2 separate regions of the Homo sapiens genome follow, and region 2 is linked to region 1. Evidence: fine-mapped expression QTL. Tissue or cell type: whole blood. Region 1 holds a variant in brackets; the other region holds the start of a gene. All regions are shown on one strand. Distances are between the middles of the regions.

What was found. PIP is the estimated chance that this variant, and not a neighbour inherited with it, causes the effect.
Region 2: it holds the start of HDAC11, and the variant in region 1 is fine-mapped to the expression of HDAC11 in whole blood (TOPMed, PIP above 0.99).

What each region holds. Positions count from the first base shown.
Region 1 is chr3:13,231,413-13,239,512 of GRCh38, reverse strand. It overlaps a transcript of IQSEC1 not described here. Among named protein-coding and RNA genes, the nearest start is that of IQSEC1, 160 kb to the right of the region's middle. RefSeq lists enhancers at 784-1,387, 1,388-1,992, 7,177-7,678. The variant C/T (reference allele first, on the strand shown) is at 3,824.
Region 2 is chr3:13,476,720-13,484,819 of GRCh38, reverse strand. It overlaps HDAC11 (histone deacetylase 11), which reads right to left and starts at 4,514. Exons shown (of 10, transcript NM_024827.4): 1 at 4,471-4,514; 2 at 3,426-3,574; 3 at 1,256-1,356. The coding sequence starts at 4,472. HDAC11-AS1 (HDAC11 antisense RNA 1) reads left to right here and starts at 4,767. Exons shown (of 2, transcript NR_046690.1): 1 at 4,767-5,177; 2 at 7,735-7,833. RefSeq lists silencers at 1,157-1,451, 4,149-4,638 and enhancers at 3,793-4,449, 5,099-5,158.

The DNA of each region.
Region 1 (8,100 bases):
GGCCTCACGGCCAGGAGGACCCAGAACACGAGGGTCTTTCTGTCTCCTGTGTCCGCGGCTCTGATGCCTGGATGGAAAAGGGTGTGAAGCAGGCCCGAGATGGTGAGGACCACGCCCGGCGGTGTGCCAAATCCATGGGTTCCTGTCCCGCCTGCCTCTTCCAGATCTCAGCCAGGCCAGGAGGCAGGGGCTCAATGGGGCAGCCCCCAAAGCCCTCAGTTCATTCCGCACTATGTGCCTGTGCTGTGGGTGGCTGTTGCCTGTGGAGTGGGCCCAGTGGACTGGGACTGAGCCGCTGTCCGCCAGCATAAACCGGAGCCCTCACATCCTGGGCAGCCGGCTTCCAGTTTTAATTTAGTGCAACCAAAGGAAATCCATAACTTGCTCTAACTCTGCTCCTTTGAGAGACTCATTGTGTTGTCCTCCACCCCAGCAGGGGAGATTCACAGGGAGCAGGGGGCATCCTCGGGGAACCCCATGTCCTCAAGCGGAGACAGGAATGAGGAAAGGCTGGTGGGCGTGTCGAGTCCCCAGCATGGGCTCCTTGAAGCACAATCCCCCTCCTCCCAGAGAACTGGAGATGACGGTGTTGGTCTCTTTATGTCCAGCTCCTTAGGAGAAGCATGTGGGGCCACTCAGAGGGAGGCCTGTCCTTAATGGCCAGAGCCCTCCCAGGGACTGTAGGAGGGCCTGGGGGCTGCTGCACACCCAGGAGGTGGTGTGTGGCTTGGACTGGACTCAGAGTGGAGGCCATCCTCAAGGACATGGGGAAACTGAGGCAGGAGCTCACTGTTTCTAGGAGAGCATGGCACGGCAGGGAGCAGAGGATGGCCCAGCGCCCAGGTTGCTGACCCCTCCTTGCTGAGCCGGGATTGTGGTGATGCCAGCCATGTGCTGAGCCCTGCTCTAGGCTCTGGAATGTGGTGGGGACAAGACGTGGTCCTGCCTGTGTCGAGCTCCTACTGGGAAGGATGGATGACAAAACCTGACATGAGAGTGACAAGTGCCATGAAGGTTCTGTCGGGGATAGAGGTGGTGCCATCTCTGAGGAGGCCACAGCTGAGTAGAGGCCTGGAGGAAGGGGATGAGCCCTGGGGTTCTGGGGAGAGCATTCCTGGCAGAGGGAATGGCAAGTGTGCTGGCCCTGGGGCTGGAGCTTGGGGTGCAAGAGAAGTGCAAGGGGAGGACGCCAGGGCTGGACAAGGGTTGCTGTGCGTGGTCTGGACTCAGGGAGCTGTTGAGGGTTGTGTGGAGGAGTGACAGGGTCCTGCATGTGTCTTGCCAGGACCAGGAGAGGAAAGCAGGTGGAGGGCGGTGACCGCCGTGGGCTGATGTGTCTGCACCCCATTTTCCAGATGGGCACGTGGAGGTGCGAATAGTCCAGCTAGTTGGTTGGGGCACGCGGTGGGTGCCAGGATCTGCCCCAGGCCTGCCCGACCATGCGTTGTGCTTGTCCCATCTGCACGTGGATGCTCAGCGGTCAGTGCCTCCAGGTGTACCCTGGTGGGGAGAGTAAGGCCACAGCTCTGCAGTCCCCCATGCAGGCCTAAGGAGTGTCTCAGAGGAAGCATTTGGGGACTGGCCAAGCCTCCACAGGGAGTGACCTCGGCCCGCCCCCTGCCTGGGCTTGGCTGCTCTGGCTCTGGGCCCCTGGTTGAGCTCCTGGTCTCCTCCGAGCTGAGCTGGGCTTGGGAAGCATCTGCTTCATGCCAGAGCTCGCAGGAGCTATCACCTTCGATGTCATTTCCACAGAGTGGCCTCAGGGCAGGCATCAACCCATTTTACAGAGGAGGAAACCGACCGCGGAGCTGAGGATTTGCAAGTGCACCATCTCCAAGGGCAGGGCTGCTTGTGGGAAGTCCTGTGCTTTCCTGTGGAGTCCTGCCTTGCAGCCTTGGAGCAGCTTTACTGGCAGAAAACATGGCGGGGAAGTGCGCAGCCCAGCAGCTCAGCTGTGTCTGTGGGGGAACCGGGGCCTGCACCGGTTCAGAGTGCCCTGTCCTGATCACTTCCCTCGTGCGATAGCTCCATCATCCAGGTGTGCTTACTGGCAGGAACCGAGGGAATAAATAAAGATCACTGGAAGAAACCTTCAGAATGGGAGGATTCCTGTGTCCTGAGACCATGGTGGAGGCCAGTGTTGCTTGGTTTTGTGCAAACGGGAGGCCCTGTCCAGAGCCTCGGAGGATGATGGGGCCTGTCCCCACCTTCCACAGGGTGTCCCTGCTGTCAGCTCAGTGACCCCGTTCTGGGGGACTCTTGCTCAGGCGTCATCCCATCCACACAGAAAGGGCTCTTCCATGGCCACGGTTTTCAGACCCTTTACATTTGTAAATTGTTGGCAGCAGAATCCTATTTCTGAAAGAAACCTCTATGGAAGCAGCTATGGAAATCAGAGGAAAGTGGAGAGGTTCTGGGAGGCGGAGGGAGACCTTCCAGTGCAGCCCTGCCTTGGGATCCGTGTCCAGCAGAGCACAGTCACATCCCCTCCACACCAGGAAGCCCCTCCTCGGGCAGGTGTTGTGAGCCAGGTGTGGGGCCACCCAGTGCGCCCGGGCCGGGCCCTCGGCCTCAGACAAGCAGAGCAGCCTTCAAAACCTGGCTGGAGGGGGGCATTTTGTTGTTTCCCCAAAAACACCCCTTCCCAAAGTACCCTGGGTGGGGGTGGGGCATCATCAGCTGCATGGGGTGACCAGAGGCCTCAAGTGCAGACAGCCAGCTGGAGGCTGATGGCAGCGTAGATGATGCGTAGACTGATGGCAGCGAGCCCACCCTTCCCTCTGTGTCCCAGCCCTAGCACAGGGGCCCGGGTGGAGCTGGCGCCTTCTCACGTCTGTGGACCCAGCTGGCTGCTATCTCCACCTCTGCAGGGGGTGTCACAGGCAGAGAAGGTGGAGGGGATGGTTGGCTCAGTGAGAGGGGGTCTGTGACTCCGAAGCACCTGAGGATGGGGTGAAGGCCCTTGACAGGTAGTGAGCCTCTCGTCACTGCACCATGTGTTAGCAGGACAAGTTTGGAGCACCCTTAGGACCATCTGGAACCACCGTGTCCCCACTAACGAAAGCAGGGCAGAGGACCTGGCCCATGGAAACATCACATGCGCAGAAAAGATGGCCAGTTTCATGTCGAAAACTGGAAGATCTGGGGTTGTCAGAACAGTTTCCAGTCCAGCACAGCCTGGCTGTGTGCTTCACCCCAGTTGGCCTTAAGTATGTGAAGGATGCAGCCTTGGGGGACCTGTGAGGGGGCTGACATTGGCCTTGGAGGGTTGGAGGGCACACGCCCACCTGAGTGCAGGCTCTGATCTGAGAATTCATCCTGCCTGGCTTCTCAGTGGGGAGCTTGCAGCCTTAGTCTCTTGCCCTTGAACTTCTGTGCAGCGGGAACAAAGGGAACAGAGATGAGTAAAGGTTGGTGAGCCTGGCACGGCGCCAGGGCCCGGCATTCATACATCTATCTCGTAAGGCCCCATGGGGCAAGATCCATTCACTTCATTTTCAGGAGACAAACTCTTAAGGAAGCTGCGTTCCTTGCTGAGGGTCCCACACTACAAGGCGACAGGACCAGGAACGGGACCAGAACCCCCAATCTGTCTGCCGCAGCGGGTTGTCTCAGCGGGGCTGGTGGCTACAGGGAACGGGGCGGCATAAGAACAGGATTTAAAGACCAGGTTCACCAGAGTAGCAAGGACATGCATTGGTTCCGTGTTGCCCTCCCTCCCCTCTCTGCAGGCACTGGATGTTAAGCCTGCAGTGGCAATGACTTCAGACATTTCCCAAAGGGAAGAAGAATGTGATAGGGCATTTGCTGCCACCTTTGCTGC[C/T]ACAAGGATCTTGTTCTTCCTCCGCCCGGGCCACCTGGGGTCCCAGAGCAATGTCCACAGGCAGCGGGAGTGATGTGCTGGCCTCATGGTGCCTGCGTGTCTGCAGACAGCACCCACCTCCAGCAGTCTCAGAGGGGCACCTCTGGGCAATTTCCCCCTCCTGCTGAGGTGCTCCCACTCCCCCAACCAGCTCAGCACCAGGGATTTTGTTGTTGGGGTGCACAGCCCCAACTTGTGAGCAGGGAGGTTTCTGGAGAGATCTGGGCTCTCCCCACCTTTGAGCCCAAGGATGCAGGTGCCTGCAGGTCCCCCGGGGCCAGCAGCAGTGGTTGGGATTGATTGGTAACTGCCACCAGCCAGGGGAAGGGTGTGGCCACACCTCTCAGACCCCAGCGCCGGGGAGGGTGTGGCAGGATGTGGGAGCCAGGCCACAGTGGCTCCCTGGAGAGCTGGGGGAGAAGCCCTGACTGAGGGGCCCACCAGGCCCCCTCTCTGTGAGACGGGGCAGCCCCACCCCACTTTGGATGGGGACTCTCCCTTTTAATCCTTTTCTGGGTCTCAGATCCCACAGAGGAAACCGATGGATCTCTTCCATCAGAGAAAATAAAATGCACAGACACACGAAGCCAGCCCACCTCGCTAGACCCCCAGAGCCCGTCCCCAGACCCGTGGGCCCCATGCCCCGGCTCCACACATCCACCTCTCCTGCACCCATCTCTTCCCAGGGCCTCAGCAATCACCCACACCTCGTGGCTGACTGCCGGCAAACTCAAATCACATTTGACAACCAACACTGTGTGTACAGTCAGGGAGAGAGAGAGATTTATTAGCTTTCATGCGGGGAGAAACACAGGGACCTCAATAGTAGCATACATTTCTCATTTGTTGTAAACTCCAGGAAAGAATTAAGGAACACTAATATTTTCCACATTTAGTCACACCCGAGAGTTGTGAGAGGCAGGGGAGGGAAAGGGAAGAAAATCCGATCTTGTGTGTGGGATTTGGGGACTGGGCATGCACTGGGCAATTTCACTTGATTCTCGCTGCTGCTGCAGGCATAACCTGTGTGGGTTTCTTTTCTCTTTTTCTCGTACCAGCCCACTTAAGTAGGTATTAGTGTCAGCAGCAGCAGTAATAGCGCAAGATGACATGGGGTAGGGGGGTACTTAGAAGAAATTCAGGTGTTTCAGGGAAGGGAGGGGGTCTCCCAGGGGCAGGTTCGACCCCAGGCTTCCTGCTGGAGAGGTGTCATCTGTGGTGTAGCTTAAACCATTGTCTTGGTCCCTTCCTGTGGAGCAGCTGCCCAGGCTCACATGGACATGGTGCTCACACCCATAGGCACACACAGACACAGGGCTCACACCCACAGGCACACACAGACACAGGACTCACACCCACAGGCACAGACACGGGGACTCACACCCACAGGCACAGACACGGGGGCTCACACCCACAGGCACAGACACGGGGGCTCACACCCACAGGCACACACAGACATGGGGGCTCACACCCACAGACCCACATAGACACTGGGGTACACACAGACAAACACAGGCACAATCTGTGCCAAAGTTTTGAAGCACGAAATTAGACAAACCCAGCATTGGAGAGCTAGGGGAAGCTTGTATTTTAAATTCCACTGGGATCCCGGAAGTGGCATGCAGAGCGCGTCAGTTTCGCCTTGTCAGTCATTGCAGCAGCCCCCACTTCAACAGCACTCACCTGCCTGGCCTCTTGTCTGAACAGTTTGCACATTTTATCTTGATTCACCCTCCCCACTTTTTGGGGGTTCTGGGTACTAGAATTATCCCCATGTTACAGGGCACAGAGAGGGGAAGTGCCCCGCCCAAGGCCATACCACATGTGAGCAGGGAGCCGGGCTTTGCTCCCCAGGAGCCTGCCGGGAGCCCTCACTCTTCCCTGGGGAGTTCAGCACCTCTGGACCTGTTTCTCAAGGAGCCAACCAGGAATCTGTGAAACAAGAGCAAGGAGAAAAGACAGCAGGCTACGTGGCAGGGAGAATCCCCACCCGGCTGTGAGGACAGTCAGGCGGAGGGGAGGAAGGGAAGAGAGTGGGGTTATGTCGAGCTGGGTGGGGAGGCTGGGGCACAGTCCGGGACCAACCCCTTGAGGCTTGGATAAACATAATGTGGTCTGTCCACACGGTGGAATAGACAGACTGTGGAACCTGCCACAGGAGGCTCCCAGGTGAGTGGAGGTTGGGAAATGGTAGCGGGTGGCTCAGCCAAGTCCACAGCACAGCCAGAACAGGGGCCTGAAGCCAGGACGGTCTGCAGCCGCCAGTGAGCAGGCAAAGTGGTGAGGCCTGCAGACCCCTCAGGATGGAGGAAGGGACAGTGCTGGATGGAGGGTGGCATGTCTCAAAGTGTGTTCCCAGAACACTTGCATCTGGTCCCTGGGGTGGTTGTTGGCACGCAGGTGCCCAGACTCTGTCCCAGACCTGAAGTCTGGGTCTCTAAGAGACTCTGCCCTGGAATCTGCATTTCTAATGAGCACCTCACGTGACACTTTGTTTTCTGTGATAAAATACACAGCGTAACATTTACCATTGTCACCATTTTTAAGTGCACATTGCGGTGGCATTAGTACCTTCACTTTGCTGTGCAGCCACCACTGCCACCCATCTCCAGGACCTTTTCCTCCTCCCAAATACAAACTCTGCCTCCATTAAACATCAACTCTCCATCCTCCCTCCCCCAGCCCCGGGCACCCACCATTCTACTTTATGTCCTGCTAGGGACCTCACACAAGTAGAATGAGACTGTTTTTCACGTTTCGTGACGGGCTTATTTCGCTTCACATAGTGTCCTCAGGCTTCATCCATATTGTTGTGTGGGTCAGAATTCCCTTCCATTTCATGGTTGGATTCGATTCCAAGGTGTGTATAGACCACATTGTGTTTATCCACTCAGCTGTGGACACTGGGGTACACTACTCTTTATTTATTACCTAATAATATTTAATACATAATTTTATCATTATTCTCCAAGTCTGTGTAGCCCATGAGGCTGTGGCTCTGTCTCCTGCGCCCCTGACTCCAGCTCACTTTCGTGGACTGTCACATCTGACCTGCCCCCTGCCCTCTCTCCCCAGACCTGCAGCCGGGCCAGGCTGGGTCCTCTCTCTGCTTGTCACCACCCCGTGAGAGGCCTCCCCGCCTTTCTTCTCCCTGCCACCTCCCTGCCTTGCTGGGAATGCAGATGACGCCTCCCTGTGAATTACTGCTACAAGCGTTTCCTGCGACAGCCTCCTGCCAGAGAGGGAGGTCATCAGGGAGGTGGACAGAGACCTAGCCTGGGTTGGGGGCAGTGGACCCCCTTCCTCCAGAGAAGAGGGCAGCAGAAGCCACTCGGCGTTGGTGCCCCCCAGATCCTGCTAGCTGGGCACCTTGGCCCATGTTCTTGTTTCCTCCTGTCTATGATAGGACAGTGGTGGGGCTGAGTGGCTAGTGCAGGGTCTCAGAACAACCCATCTAGGATAGCAAACACTTCGCAACTCCCTTTGTCGTCCTGAAGTGAGACTCAGCTGAGAAAGCACACCCAGCACGTATTTTATAAAAAAACCAGTACAGTGCCCTAACTATTATAAAGTAGAAGGCAAAGGAAAGTGAATTATGATCCAAGTAATCCAGGTTTCAACACGTCAGTGCACTAGGTTGGGGCCCGGCATGTTTCTCCTCCGAGGCAGGGGAGGCAGTGACATCCGCCTCTCGGCGTGGGAGCACCAGAATGTGACTGCTGCAAGTGCATTGGAAGAGCAGATGTCAGCAGCTCAGAAGTCATGCACGGCATCGCCAAAGGGGGTGTGAGTTTCTGAAACCATGAACAGCTTTGGTCAAGTTCAAAATAAAAATAGTCCAACTTCCTGAGGTTTAGAGACCCGTTGTGCTCTTGGGAAAGTCAGTGCTTAGGTGGAAATCAGAGTTAGGGTCTTGGCATAGTAATTTATAGTTTAGAAGAAACATTCACATTCATTATTGCATTTGGTAGAGACAGCAAAGTAGGGCTCATCATCCCCATTTTATAGAGAATAATAGTGTCTATTGTTTGTGTCCCCCAGGTTCACATGTTAAAACCCTAATCCCCATCATGTTGATATTTGAAGGTGGGGCCGTTGGGAGGTGGTGAGGTCATGCAGGTGGAGCCCTCATGATGGAATTTGTGTCCTTATAAAAAGAGATGAGAAAGCTAGCTTCCTCTCTCTCTCCCCACCATGTGAGGCTGCAGCAAGAAGACCAGATCCCCGCTATGTGGCAC
Region 2 (8,100 bases), 250 kb before region 1:
AACTTCAGCCACTAATAGGAGCTGTGTCCTTCTCTGGAAAGAGGTCACAAGCAGGCAGCCAGTGTGCCCAGTTTGGTCTACAGGTGGGCTTTTACAATCTTATAATGAGTGCCACATTAAGAAATCAGGGCCGGGTGTGGTGGCTCACCCCTATAATTCCAGCTACTTCGGAGGCTGAGGCAGAAAAATTGTTTGAACCCGGGAGGCGGAGGTTACAGTGAGCTGAGATCGTGCCACTGCACTTCAGCCTGCTCAACAAGAGCGAGACTCAGTCTCAAAAAAAAAATCAGGAAATGTCACTTAATAATCTGGATTCCTGGCTTCTCTTTGAAGACCAGGTGCTCTGGCCATGCCGGGCCCACAGTGGAGCTGAGGAGCCGCCCCTTGGGAAGGGGCAGGAGTTCACCTCAGACTCTACCACCGGCCCTCCCACTTGTTTCTCTTCTCTGCTGAGCCCTGAGGGTTTCAAATTAGTTTTTAGACCAACAATTTTCAACAAAACTTCAGCAGAAGTACTTAGACCAGAGTCTTAAACTTCAGCCCAATATAAAAAATAGGGTGGGTGCGGTGGCTCACGCCTGTAACCCCAGCACTTTGGGAGGCCGAGGTGGGCAGATGACCTGAGTTCAGGAGTTCGAGACCAGCTTGGCCAACACGGCGAAACCACATCTCTACTAAAATACAAAAAAAATTAGCCAGGCATGGTGGCACGCGCCTGTAATCCTAGCTACTCACTCAGGAGGGTGAGACAGGATAATTGCTTGAACCCGGAAGGCGGAGGTTGCAATGAGCCGAGATCACATCACTGCACTCCAGCCTGGGCGACAGAGTGAGACTCCATTTCAAGAACAAAAACCAACAAAAAAATGAACAAACAAACAAACAAAATAGACCAAAGTGAAAGAGCTATGTATGGTTGGAGGACAGGGGCTGGGGTCTCGGAGGCGTGTCGACAGAGCACAGCTTGAAAGTCATAATGTAGAAGCCTAAAATTCTATGAAGGCTTTCATACGCCCTGGAGAAGGGGAGGACACCACCCTCAGAGTGGCCTGGCCCAAACTGAGGTCTGCCTTTTTATGACCTCTCTCCTTCTCTTGGGGACCACAGACTCCCATGTTCCTCCAACACTAGGGACATGAATGGGTGCCCTGTGAGACTTGGCTTCCCCAGGCTGAGTCACCTCCTGCCTCTGGCCACTCCTGGCCAGCAGCCCCCTGCCCCAGGCCCGCAGCCCCCCAGGCCCGACATCCTGTACCTTGAGCTCATTAAGATAGCGCCTCGTGTGCACCACCAGCAGGTCCTCCTCCGAGGCCTCCCGCGCCTCCACCAGCATGCTGTCAGACAGAAGCTTCTCTTCTGAAACCACAGAGGGAGCATCCTGCTTCCCCACTGACCTCAAGGCCAGGGCCAGCCCCAGACCCTCCCACAGGCTGCAGACTTGGCCTGTGGCAGCCCCTGCCCCAGGGGTAGGTAGGCACTGCTGGCTTGTGGGCCTTCTGAGAAGGGGTAGCCTCCCCAGCCACTGTGGACAGTGGCCAGTCCCTCTGGCCAGGGAGCAATGAACATCGTACACACAGCAATCCCCATGTTTCCCAAGCCACTGATAGTCACAAGGAGAGCTCAGGTGTGCTAGACAACCTTCAGGAGCAGGTGGCACAAGGGTCAGGGATGTTGACCCTCAGAGTGAGAAAAACTCTTCTTAGGAATTCCCCCTCCACCTTCCCCCCGCCCTTTTTTTTTTTTTAATTCATTTAAAGAGACAGGGTCTTGGCCAGGTGTGGTGGTTCACGCCTGTAATCCCAGCACTTTGGGAGGTTGAGGCAGGTGGATTGCTTGAGCCCAGGAGTTCAAGACCAGCCTAGACAACATAGTGAGACCGCATCTCTACAAAATATCAAAAACATGAGGTGGGAGGATCACTTAAGCCAGGGAGGTTGAGGTGGCAATGAGCCTTGATTCCGCCACTGCACTCTAGCCTGGGTGATGGGAGTGAGACCCTGTCTCAATAAATAAATAAACAAATAAATAAATGCAAGACAAGGTCTTGCTCTGTAGCCCAGGCTGGAGTGCAGTGGCACAACCATAGCTCACTGCACCCTCGAACTTCTGGGCTCAAGTGATCCTCCTGCCTCAGCATTTCAAGTAGCTAGGACTATAGGTGCATACCACCACCCCCAGCTAAGTTTTTTATTTTTATTTTGTAGAGACAGGATCTTGCTATGTTGCCCAAGCTGGTCTCAAACTCCCGGCCTCAAGTGTTCTCCTAGCCTTGGCCTCCCAGAGTGCTGGGATTACAGGCACGAGCCACTGCGCCCGGCCTCCCTCCACCTTCTGATGATATTACAGGAGGCTCAGTGTGGCATGGCCTCGCAACACCTGCCTGTGCTTTGCTCATCTTCCGTTCAAACCACTAATCAGTCTCACAGCCTGCAGGCAATAGTAACCAGCCTGGATTGAATTATACTGTTGTTTTCATTGCATTTACTTTTTTACCATGACCTATTTATGGCAAGTGAAACTGCCTTTTCCCATTTTGATGACATAATGTTTCCTTTTAAAACAAGTTTAAGTGAATTTCCCACCTAAATCAGGCCCCTTGATTACAAACCACAGTTAAAACGATATGCTCTTCGAAGCATCATTTTGCTCAAGGGGATGAGCCCTAAAGGTAGGGCGCCTGGAGCTCTGAGTTCCAAACCCAACTCCGCCTCTTGTAACTGTGTTACTTCAGCCACTAATGGGAGCTGTGTCCTTCCCTGGAAAGAGGTCACAAGCAGGCAGCCAGTGTGCCCAGTTCGGTCTACAGGTGGGCTTTTACAATCTTATAATGAGTGCCATATTAAGAAATCAGGGCCGGGTGTGGTGGCTCACGCCTGTAATTCCAGCTACTTGGGAGGCTGAGGCAGAAAAATTGTTTGAACCTGAAAGGCGGAGGTTACAGTGAGCTCCTGAGCCTCTGCTGCGATTGTGGTGCCTACCCCGAGGGCTGCTGTGAGGACTGGACTGGAATTGGGTGCACATGTTTCCTAATCATTCTAGGACACAATTTCCCCCATCTGTAATCAAGAGAGGTGCGGTGGAGGTGCTCTACCTCCTGACTCTCTGAACCTTAGGAAATGGACTCCTCCAAGCTTCACCTTCCCTGTGCCCATCAGTAATCAGCTACCTTTCCACTAGGCCTCTTGGGCAGAGGCAGGACTTAGGCCCACAGGATGGGGAGCCAGGGAGAGTCTGAGTCAGGGACATCATATCGTGATTAGGAGTCTGTGTTGGAAAAATCATTTTGGGCGGAAGCATGGGTGGAAGGCCATCCGAGGGCTGAAACTGAAGATGGGAGAGAGCCTGAGGCTTATGTTGGGGATGAGGACGGAGAGGACAGGTGGGTTGGAGGAAGCAGATGAGAGTCCAAGGGGGACCTTCCATACCTTTTAGGAAATTGATCACTTTGCCCCATTTTCCGGCATCAAAGGGATGCAGCTTCTCCAGGCCCATGAAGGTGATGTTGTAGCGCGGCGAGTACACGATTGGCCAGCGTGTCTCTGGCACATGCTGGTACAGCTGGGTTGTGTGTAGCCTACCGTGTGGAAAAAGACAGACGCACAGCTGGGGCAGCCTCGGCAGAAAGCAGCTCCCTCCCGAGCCCGCCTGGACTGACCCACCAGCCATTGCCCAGCACCACTAGCCCCTCAGCCGCAGACAAGGGCCCCTCAACAACAGCTGCTTAAACTGGCTGCCTTTCCCGGAACCCAATTCCAATCCAGTCCTCACAGCAGCCCTGGGGGTAGGCACCACAATCGCACCAGAGGCTCAGAGAGCAGACCAGGTGTGCCCAAGGTCACAGTGCAGGTCTGTGGAGAAGCAGGCGTGCACTCAGGTGTGTCTGGCTGCAAGGCCTCCGCGCATCACCTCTGCACCGTAATAAATGCCCCCACAGCTGTGTGGCACAAGGCTTCGGCTGCAAAATGTGTGGCTGTTGTGAGGACTCAGAGAATGCAACTGAGGAGCTGAGCACAGTAAGCACTCAGAAACCCAAGTCGGGACCCAACCTGAGCCAGGGCGGGGGGCGGGGATCCCCTGACCCCGCTGCGCTGCTAACCCTTCCCATCACACCCTGGCAGTCGTCACCCAGAGACAGAAATCCGCCCCAGTGGCTGCCTCCGTGGGGGCGTCCGCGTAGCCAGGGGGCTGGGCAGCGCAGACGTCAGACCCGCGCACATCGCCCGACCGCTCCGGGTCCGGGCCCAGGCCCGCGGCCGGCGCGCGTCCCTCGGGCCACCGAGCAGGGGCGCGGGGCTGGCCTGGCGCGCCGGGAGGGCCTGGAAACACCCGTCCCGAGCGTCCCTCACCCCTCACCAGCAAATCTGGGCCCTTACCTGGCGCGCCCGCCCGGCCGTCCCCGCCCTCGCCCTAGCGCGCCCGCCCACCGGGACCCCTGGGAGCCCACCCCCGCCCTCGCCCCGCGGCACTCACATCCCGGGGCCGGCCCTCCCAAAGCTGGCCGCAGCTCCGCGACCGGGCGGGGCGGGGCGGGGCGCGGGTGGGGCCAGCCCAGGACACGCCCCCGGGCTTAGCCGCGTCCTCTGGGGGCAGAGCTCTGGCCGATTTGGCCCGCCCCGCCAGTGTTGCGACACAGAGAGCCTGCCCGCAGGAAGGCCACCCCCAACGCCCATCAAGCCCGAAGTCCCGCCTCCGCAGGCAAATACCCGGTGGAATCCCGCCTGGTTCGGAAGCTCCGCCCCCTGGCGGGAGGGCCAAGCGGGTTTCACCCCGGCCTCGCGGAAGGGGCGCGACCACCGTATGTCCTGTTCCTGCGCTTCCCAAGCTGGGTAGAAACGGCGAGAGGCTGGGGGTTAGAAACGACAGGTTCCCGGCGGGCTGTGCCGGGGCTTCGCTGTGTGACCTTGGGCTGGCGTCTGGGCTCTCTGGGCCCTTGTTTCCGCGAGTTAAACGTAGGGGCGGGGGAGTTTCTCTGGCCCTGCCGCCTGTGACCTAAGGAGCCCCGTGACCTCTCCGACCCGAGCCCACCCCCGGCCCAGTCTGCGAGCAGCTCCGGGACAAGCACTCCCGGCGAAGACATGTAGGCTCTCAGAGCCTGCGTTTCCCTCTGTAGAGCAGGCCTAGTTACTGTCTTCAGGGTGCACGCGTCTCCGTCCCCGACCCGCACCCTCACCGCCGGGGTAAGCTGAGCCAGGCCCAAGCGACAGCTGGGGTTGTCCGTGGGGCTGCAACCCAGGAGGAGGCCCCAACAATAGAGCCCCAGAGGACGGAGACAATGGGCCTCTCTGTCGGCCCAGCCGTCCCCGCCATCCAAACAGAAGCAGCTGACGGAGGACTGCCGGGCTGGGATCCCTGGGCTCCGCGGGGGCGGCTGTGTGCCAGGGCGGGGCACAAGGGAAGCGCACAGACGTTTGAAGAGGGGCCCCCGTGTGCCTGCCATGATTGCATGATGGCATCTGAGCCTCACAACCTAATCCTGAGAAAGGTGCCATAATCACCCCAACTTTATCTTGAGGGAACTGAGGTTCGGGCCTGGATTAAACCCAAACTCGGCCACCCGCCAGCATAGTGGCTTTGGGCAGGTTGCTTCAGCCTTCTGGTCCTTCATGTCTGCATCTGAAAATGAAGTACTGGGCCGGGTGCGGTGGCTCACGCCTGTAATCCCAGCACTTTGGGAGGCCGAGGCGGGTGAATCACCTGAGGTCAGGAGTTCGAGACCATCCTGACCAACATGGTGAAACCCCGTCTCTACTAAAAATACAAAAAATTAGCTGGGCGTGATGAAGGGCGCCTGTAATCCCAGCTACTCGGGAGGCTGGGGCAGGAGAATCGCTTGAACCGGGGAGGGGAGGTTGCGGTGAGGCCGCGCCATTGCAATCCAGCCTGGGCGACAAGAGTGAGACTCCATCTCAAAAAAAAAAAAAAGGAAGAAAATGAAGTTCTGGTTGCACTTCATTCTCTGGATTTCATGGGCAAGTCCAGGGAATCAAGAGACAATAATGTTGATTATTATTCAGAGACCATCTGTCATGTGCTAAGTTGAAGTCCAAATGCTTTTTGCTTGTCGAACTCTTCTGACAGTCCTAGGAGGCAAACTATTGTCATCCCCATTTTATAGATAAAGAAATTGAGGCACAGAATGGTGAAGTAACTCACTCAAAGGTCAGGGATGTGGGCAGATGTAAACCACAGAAGGAATAAGTACTATTTTATAAAGTGACAGAGTGCATGCAGTGGCCCTGTGGCATTTGTGAGAGACCGACTTCCCCTCAGGGAACTTGCTCTGTAGTTTGGGAAGCCACACAGATGATCCTCTGGTTGGGAGAATGAGGATCTGGGCAGCCTGGACCTGAAGCTGAGGCCAAAGAGAGTGGGATTGGTCTGAATAAGTGGGTTTTTAAATTTTTTTAATTTTTAAATTATTTTTTAAGAGACACAGCCTCACTATATTGCTAAGGCTGGTGTCTAACTCCTGGGCTCAAGCGATCCTCCCACCTTGGCCTTCCAAAGTGTTGGGATTACAGGCATGAGTCACAATGCCTGGCCAAGGGTTTTTAAAATTGTGTCCTGGTAGCTAAAGAGTTAAGTGGTCTGCGGAGGCCCTGGAGCTTGTGAACACCTTCAAACCACCATGAAAGCCTGGGCCAACCGGCCGCATTATCACGTGGGGAAGAAATAAGTGTTATGCACGCTGCTGTGTTTGGGGGCCTCTTTGTTGCAGTATCCTAGTGTGTCTGCTCACTAAGACACAGCACTGGGGACACAGCTGCACAGAGCAGATGAGTTCAGAAAGCCTTTGTCAAGCTAATAGTTTAGTGGGAGAGACAAGCCTTAACCTAGGAAGGAAAATTGTGATTACAAAATGTGGTAACTGCTGTGAAAGGCATAGGCTGAGACTGTGAGAGAGAGAATAATGGGGTCCCTGATTTGGACAGTGGTCAGGGAAGGCCCCTTTGAAGAAATACATTTTTTCACTTTTTAACCATATGTATTTTATTTTTAAATGGCATTTAATGAAACAAGACACTGACTTATTGAACATTGTATACTTAACTGTTTTTCCCCTTTCATGCAATATTGAAATATATTTCAACTTAAAACAAATAAGAAAGTCCCAAATATAACACTTCTTTTGAAAAATACAGGCACGGCTGGGCGCGGTGGCTCACGCCTGTAATCCCAGCACTTTGGGAGGCCAAGATGGGCGGATCACCTGAGGTCAGGAGGTCAAGACCAGCCTGGCCAACATGGCGAAATCCCATCTCTACTAAAAAGTACAAAAATTAGCCAGGTGTGGTGGCAGGTGCCTGTAATCCCAGCTACTCAGGAGGCCAAGGCAGGAGGAGCTTGAATCCAGGGGCGGAAGTTGCAGTGAGCTGAGATCACGCTACTGCGCTCCAGCCTGGGCAACAAGAGCAAGACTGTCACACAAAAAAAGAAAAATACAGGCACGCAAAGGATATTACAGAAATGCACCAAACATGAATTATTGGCACAGATACAATATTTCAAAACACTAACTAATATTAGATTGAGACATCCTATTACAACATTAAAACCATGCCCCTTTCAATTCAAGTGAGCACCTCTATTTCCATTCCAAGACCCTGTGATTTCATACACATTTAACACAACGGTAACAATAACAGTAATGCTAGCTAGTATTTGTTATGCCCTTAATGAGTGCCAAGCTCAGCTAAATATGTAAAACATGTTTTGTTTGTTTTATTGGTGAAGAGATGAGTTCTTAAACAACCAGAAGATACTGCAGGTTCAAAGTCCCGGAGGCCAGAAGGAGCTTGCATTCAAATAAGAAAATATATTTTCTCAAGGAAATATAAGTTGTATTTCTATGTAACTCTATGCACCAGGAGGGCCCCAGCAAGAAAGAGAGGTCTCACTCCACAGGGATTTCTGAAAAAAGTTTAATGAACAGGCCATTTACCTGAGATGTGGGTGAGGTTGAGGGGACCAACAGGAGATGGTGCAGCACCTGGGGTTGGCAACAGAGGGGAGGGAGCTCTCACCCCTAAACCTGAAGGGTCCAGGAGAGGGAGTGGTTTCCTGGAACCAGTGAGAATAGCTAGTTATGGGCCACGGGGA